2 linked regions of the Homo sapiens genome follow. The protein of the gene in region 1 interacts with the protein of each later gene in a biochemical or structural test. Each region holds a gene or a part of one and is shown in the gene's direction. Other genes may lie near its edges.

Region 1 (3,500 bases):
ACCGCATCAGGAGCTGCGGAGGGGTGGGATCGAGGCCAGGCCAGCATGGCGGAGGTGGCAGCCGCCAGAAAATGGCGCCTACAAGCCAGTTCTTCTTGGCCTCAGGGACAGCACAGGCCTGAGGTTCACCCTGAGCCCTTCCCACCCGCATCCTGAGTGGCGCTGCAGGGCTGCTGGATGAAGGACAGGAGGTGGTCGCCTGTTGCCCCACTGGCTGCTCCAGGGCCTCCACCCCCACCTCCCCCTGGAGCCCTCGGTGCAGGGAGGGCTTCTGTCCTCAGACCCAAGTAGGAGAGGGCTGCTGGGAGGCGAGAGGGCATCAGCCAGAGGGCTGGGCTGGGCTGGGCTGGGCTGGGCTGTGGGAGCCCTATGTGCCTGGGGCAGTAATCAGGCAAGGCCCAAGGCCATGCGAGGCCACCGTGGTGACCTCATTCATGGACCGCTGGTCGTCCCATGCCGGTCAGCAGTGCTGCAGACACAGGACAGAACGTCCCCTGCAAAGCGAAAAGACTAATAGGTGCCAGGGGGGTGGTGCCAGGTTGGGCCGACTTCCTGAGGTGGCTGGCAGGTGGGTGAGGGGCAGGCTTGGGGGGAGCAGCTGCCCCACCCATGTGTCCCCCACTCCCAAAGGTCTTGAGTTTGCCAGCCCCCGAGAAGGGATGCCTGCCTCCCAGAACGTACCTGGTGCCCCCCAGGCCTGCTAAGGACCAGGCTGGGAACACCAGGCTTGGATGTGGTGCTGGGCTGCCGGAGTTTCTTTTTCTTATCTTATTTTTAATAATTAAATGTTTTTATAGAGATAGGGCCTCACTATGTTGCCCAGGCCAGTGTCAAACTCCCAGCCTCAAGCGATCCTCCCATCTCGGCTTCCAGAAGTGCTGGGATTATAGGCGTGAGCCACCGTGCCCAGCCATCCCCTGGGTTTTTGTGCCACAGTGCTCATGGGTTTCTGACGATGACCTCTCCTGGGAAATTGGGGGTGCATGTCAGCCACCGCAGAGGCTGAAGACAGAGGAAGGAGCAGAGGCTCTGGGGCCCTCAGCGAGTCCGTGGGACAAGGTGCTGTGACCGATGGCAGTGGGTGGGTAGGGGATGGGCTGGAATGTGCCCCCCAGGATGTCCAGGCCTATTTCTACCCATGGCCGGGGTTTCCTAAGGGTGGGGAGCTCTGCCGAGAGCTCCTGCGGCACCCCTAGTACCCTCCTGTGTCCCTGGCTCGGCACTGCCACCATCTGGGACCCCAGCAGCAACTGGCAGCAGGGCTGGGAGCAGCTCTGGAAAGGCTCCGCGGAGGCTGCGGCTCTGGGTCCTCCCGACGTTTTCTTTCTTGGAGCCAAGGAAAAGGGGGGCCGGAGTGGGAGGACGCTGGAACAATGCAGCTTCTGTCCCTCTCTGGCTCCTCTGTGCCGCCCCGAGTGCGGGACCCCTTCCAGCCGGCCGGACGCCTCCTCCCCCAGGGCTGGGGAAGGGTCCTCCTCCCCGCCCAGGGCAGCCCGGCAGCCTGGCTGGGGCCGCCGCCCGGCTGCCGCTGTGGGAGGCAGGCTGCACACCTAGAGCCTGGGCGGCCCTGGGTGAGACCCCGGCTCAGCTGAGCCTGGCAGGGACAGGGCCTTGAGGCCGGGAGTCTGGACCCGGCGTTGCGGGTTGGGGGCGCCACGGAAGGACCCACGCAGCCTCCCCATTCGGCAGGTGCGGAGGGCGGGGTGGATCTGCGAGCTGCGGGAGGGGAGGGGGGTGCAGAGCCGCGCTAGAGCCTGGCCGTGCGGAGGGGGCGCCAGGGCTGGGGGCACAGGAGGGCGCTGCCCAGCGGGGTGTGGGCAGGGAGGAGGAAGTCGTCTGGAGGTGGGGCTTCAGCCCGGCGGGGACGCGGTGGGGCGTGGCCTTGCTGTTGTGGGCGTGGTCCATGGGGGCGGTGGGCGTGGCAGAGGCTGGTGGGTTTGGTGTCCCGTTGATAAACACAAGGAGACTTACGTGCGGCTGGAGGACAAAGAGCCTTGGCGCGGCTCAGTCAGCGTATTAATCTCACCGCCCTCTGCTGGCCCCTCCCCAGCCAGCAGAGAAGCCCCAGAAGTGTGTCTGGGGGTCACCACCCTGCCAGCCACTGCCCTTGTCCAGCTCCTCTGGGTGTGTGGCCTCTATGAGACCCTGACAGCAACCAGCCCCCACCTCCCTGGCCAGAGGGCACAGGCCCGGGCCTCCCACACTTGCTCCTGGGCTGCCCACCCCCCACCCCAGCAAGGGTGCCAGGCAGGACGGAGGCTCTGCTGCCACTCTTGGTGCGGGCAGCATGATTGGCATGTTGGGAGGAGGGAGCCGGCCCTGAGCCCTGCAGGACCGCCCCCTGCCCTTGGCCTGTCCCCGATGGCCCTGCCTGTCCCACAGGATGTGCGACTGCCCTCGGCCCTGCTGACCGTACTTCTCAGCCCTCCACCGTCTGGGCCCTGCTCAGGGCGTTGTGAGCACGGTACACAAGAGTTACTGGGGGAGCATGCCACCAGCCTTCCTGGGAGAAGTCCCCTGAACGTCCCAACGAGTGGCCTTGGGGTCAGGGATGTGCATGGCATAACCTCCCCTGCAGTTTAGGCTGTGGGCTCCAGCCCTGGCCAGCTGATCAAGTGACTTGACCCACTTGTGCCTCAGTGTCCCCATCTGGGGAACGGGCCCATCAGTAGTGCTGGGAACAGAGCTTGGCAGGGGTGAGAGGCCAGCGAGCCTGAGGGCCCGTAAGCCTGTTGCGTTCGGGCCCTGGGTGGACGAGGCAGGTGTGGCTGCAGCACCATCCGCCTGTTCCAGCAGCCCAGTGGCCCTTGGGCAGCCGCCGGGATGGAGGATGCACCCTCTGTCCGTGCGCCTAAGAGGGCCCAGAGGGGACAGTGTGTGGGAAATGGCACACAGGGTCCCGCACGCAGCAGATACACAGTAAATGCCTGCTGCTTGGTCACCAGGCTCCTGCCGTGTGCCAGGCACTGCTGGGGCCCTCACTGGCACCAAGACCGCTGAGCCGCGTCCAGCAGCTGATAGGTGAGGAACGGGGAGCCCAGGAGTGAGCCACATGGGATGAGCTTTGGGAGAAAGAAAAGCCCAACAGGGAGGTGCGGACAGGAACGGGGGAGGTGCGGACAGGATCGGGGGGAGGCGCGGACAGGAGCGGGGGGAGGCGCGGACAGGAGCGGGGTGGGGGCGCGGACAGAAGCGGGGTGGGGCGCAGACAGGAGCAGGGGAGGCGCGGACAGGAACAGGGGAAGCAGGCTGCAGCACCTTTGGGAGATGACCATCATGGTCCATTCCGACTGCCCTCACAAAGCACCGCAGGCCGGGGCAGCAACAGCAGACGTTTACTCCTCACGGCTCTGGAGGCCAGAAGGCCAGGGTTTGGGTGCTGTGTGCTCGGGTGCTGGCGAGAGCCTCTTCCGGGCTGGCAGACGGCGCTTTCTTGTTGTGTCCTCACCTAGCAGAGACAGCGAGGAAGAAGGGGGAGCTTGAGAACACTGGTGGCTTCT
Region 2 (3,500 bases), on another chromosome or scaffold:
CAAACTCCTGACCTCAGGTGATCCGCCCACCTCAGCCTCCCAAAGTGCTGGCATTACAGGCGTGAGTTACTGTGCCCAGCCTAAGTCTTTTATTTTTAACTCAAGCTACTAAACATGCTTCTTTCCAAAAGTCTGGTTTCAAAAACTAAAGGTTCATGGAATGAATCTTTTATTCCTAATTCAGCTAGCTGCATTTCAGGCACAAAGTGGGTGTTCAGTGTGTGCTTGTTGAATTAATTAATATCTAGTGGGGATTTTTTTTTAGTACCAGATAAAAGTAGAGAAATAGGTTATTTTGAAAGAATGAATATCTTTTTATCTATAGTTAAAATATAATGGTGATAAATGTATTTTATAGGTAATACAGATTGCCTTTCCGGATAAAAATTACATAAATCTAATTGCCAATTTTCAATGTTTTTTCAAGATTTTTATTGAAGGATGGTCAGCTGTGGCTATGTGCTCCTCAGGCAAAACAAATATGGAAATGCTTAGCTGAGAATGCAGTTTACCTTTGTGATCGTGAAGCCTGTTTTAAGTGGTATTCCAAGTTGATGGGGGATGAACCAGACTTAGATCCTGATATTAATAAGGACTTCTTTGAAAGTAATGTGCTTCAGCTTGATCCTTCTCTGTTAACTGAAAATGGAATGAAGTGTTTTGAGCGATTCTTCAAAGCTGTGAATTGTCGAGAAGGAAAACTAGTAGCAAAAAGGAGAGCCTATATGATGGATGACTTGGAGTTAATAGGATTAGATTACCTTTGGAGGGTAAGTCAAAAGTAGGAACTCTGTAAATGGTGTCTGATGTACTTTTTCATGTACGTAAGGAATTGTAATTTTGCATATAAATTGTGTATTTTACTCTGATGTTTGTCTCAGGAATTTGGTGTAGTTAGGAATTGTTCATTTTTATTATGTCACCTGTCAGTGGGCTTTTTCTTCTCTCTTCCTCTCCCTCCTCCTGCCACTGATGTTCCTTTTGTCTTAGCTTAGTATCTGTGTATTCCATAGATGTGCACTAAACATACAAATCTTTCATTCCTCCCCCGTGGATATTAATGTTCCTTCCCGAGTTTTCATTCAGTGTCGATCTGTTTCCTCCTCTTCAATGTTTAACACTAAAATAGAGGACAGAAGAGAGGACTTGTGTTTAGTATAGATTATGAGTATATGCTTTATTGGCACTGTTTACCTTGTGATATTTTTAAATACCTGGGGGAATAAAATACTATCTTTTTAAGGCTAATCTATTTTTATAGTACTACTCTATTATGCCTATCTTTAATCTGACCTGTTATACAGCAGTTTATATTGTTTGGATGTCTCACATATTTTCCTGCAAACCATAGATAAAGATGTTTATTGTGGCATTTGAGTATTTAAAAGCTTTTAATTAAGTATGTGGTTTTCAACATTGTTTTAACAGCAGAAACACATCTTAAAACTCAAAATTTGCACCACACTACAAAAGTAAACTGAATTGAACAAGGAAAATATGTTTTCTTACTTGGTCTCCCCATGCTTATCCCCTTTCCCCTCCCCAACCCTTTTATAGGGGCCAACACTGAAACACTTCCTCAAAGTCCCCTAGGGTTCTGAACATAGTTTGGAAACCACTAATGTAATTAGATGAGTGATAAAGATTTATAGAAACTGGGGGTAGAGTAGTCCTTTATGCTAAACTGTGTTTCATGTAATCTCTTATTTCCTGTCAACTAATTTGAATTTCTTCTTGAGTGTCTCACTTGGTTATCAAGATATTAAATTATAGGGTTAAATAATAGTGGTCAAAGCGTATTTTATTTTTACAAAAATGTACCTTTCATTCTTAAATTATTCAGAGACTTTCATTTTGCATTTATTACCCTTTCTTTTGGTCTGTGCTTCTCACTTAATTTTACTTGATTATCAAAGTCAACTTACCATTAAATCATTGAATAGTGTGTTTAAGATAACTGAGGATATGGTTTGAATTTAAATGCCCAACAAAAATATATGTTGAAAGGGATGAATACTTTTATCATTTTGAAACCAGGTCGTGATTCAGAGTAATGATGATATTGCCAGCAGAGCTATAGATCTCCTCAAAGAGATATACACGAACCTTGGTCCAAGACTACAAGTCAATCAGGTGAGGATTGATGTGCATTAAAACTTCCATATATAATTCTTTCGGCCCCCATTTCTCTTATACAAAAGAGAAAAAATATTATCTAAATGAATCTTGCCTTGTTAGTTGTCTTGAAGTGATTGGGTTATTTTTAATATAACTATTTATTAGATGTTGAAATGGCAAAGAAAGTCTATGTGAATTCATTTTGATGCTAACACCTAATCCTGAAGTTCACTTTTGACTAATTTATGTTTGTTAACTTATGTAATGCTAGCTTCCTTTTAATAAACATACATTTTATTATTGTATGGATTCTCTACTTAAATATGACTGTTGTTAATTGAGTGCTACAATTAAATCAGCCATTGCCATCTTTAATTGGATTAATATTTGGTTTTTACATTTTAAAGCAATTTTAACTGTGTTTATTTGGCCTGATATTTGTAGGTGGTGATCCATGAAGACTTCATTCAGTCTTGTTTTGATCGTCTGAAGGCTTCCTATGACACATTGTGTGTTTTGGATGGTGACAAAGACAGTGTTAATTGTGCAAGACAGGAAGCTGTTCGAATGGTTCGAGTATTAACTGTTTTAAGGGAATATATAAATGAATGTGACAGTGATTATCATGAGGAAAGAACAATTCTCCCTATGTCGAGGTTTGTGAATAACTAATCTATTGGTGCTAATTCTTAATTATTTGATATTTTCCTAGCCATTTGGTAAAAGGAGAGCAGAAATTTTTCTCGTTTGAAAATTGTTGTCTTTGCCCATTAAAAACATTTTCATTTCATCTAATTTTTTTTAATAACCTCCCCCACTCTCCCATCTGGTTTTGTTTTGGTTTTTTGGGTGAGGCATTCTTAAGTTGTTTTCTAGTTTTCTTTTTGTCTTTGACATTATTACTCATTAAGTGTTGCAGTGGCATTTTGCAGTTGAAGTGTTTTTGTTTATTTGTTTATTTTGAGAAAAGGTCTTATTCTGTCACCCAGGCTGGAATGCCGAGGTGTAATCATGGCTCACTGCGGGCTCAAGCGACCTTTCCACCTCAGCCTCCCAGGTAGCTGGGGCTACAGGCACAGGCTACCACACCTGGCTAATTTTTTTTGACTTTTTGTGGAGGTGGGGTTTCACTACATTGCCCAGGCTGGTTTCAAACTCCTACGCTCAAGCAAATCCTCCTGCTTTGGCCTCCCAAAGTGCTGGGATTATAGGCGTGAGCTACAGTGCCTGGCCTGTAAAGAGCTCTTAAAAGCTGCCTTGCATGGCATATAACAAATATTTTCAAATGGTGTTTATAGTTTTGGGATGTTTTGTGTAGTCAATGCCATCATTTTTTTTAAAGAGTTTTGTTTATTAATCATGAAATTATATACAGTTGCTTC

What was found.
Region 2: the proteins of GPSM1 (region 1) and USP9X form a complex in vitro, tested with the Homo sapiens proteins (one study listed by BioGRID).

What each region holds. Positions count from the first base shown.
Region 1 is NC_000009.12:136,341,039-136,344,538, forward strand, and holds part of GPSM1 (G-protein-signaling modulator 1), read left to right. Parts: coding exon of another isoform or gene 1-122; exon of another isoform or gene 123-800; intron 801-3,500. UniProt on the Homo sapiens protein: Guanine nucleotide dissociation inhibitor (GDI) which functions as a receptor-independent activator of heterotrimeric G-protein signaling.
Region 2 is NC_000023.11:41,165,445-41,168,944, forward strand, and holds part of USP9X (ubiquitin carboxyl-terminal hydrolase 9X), read left to right. Parts: intron 1-427; coding exon 428-770; intron 771-2,037; coding exon 2,038-2,133; intron 2,134-2,562; coding exon 2,563-2,774; intron 2,775-3,500.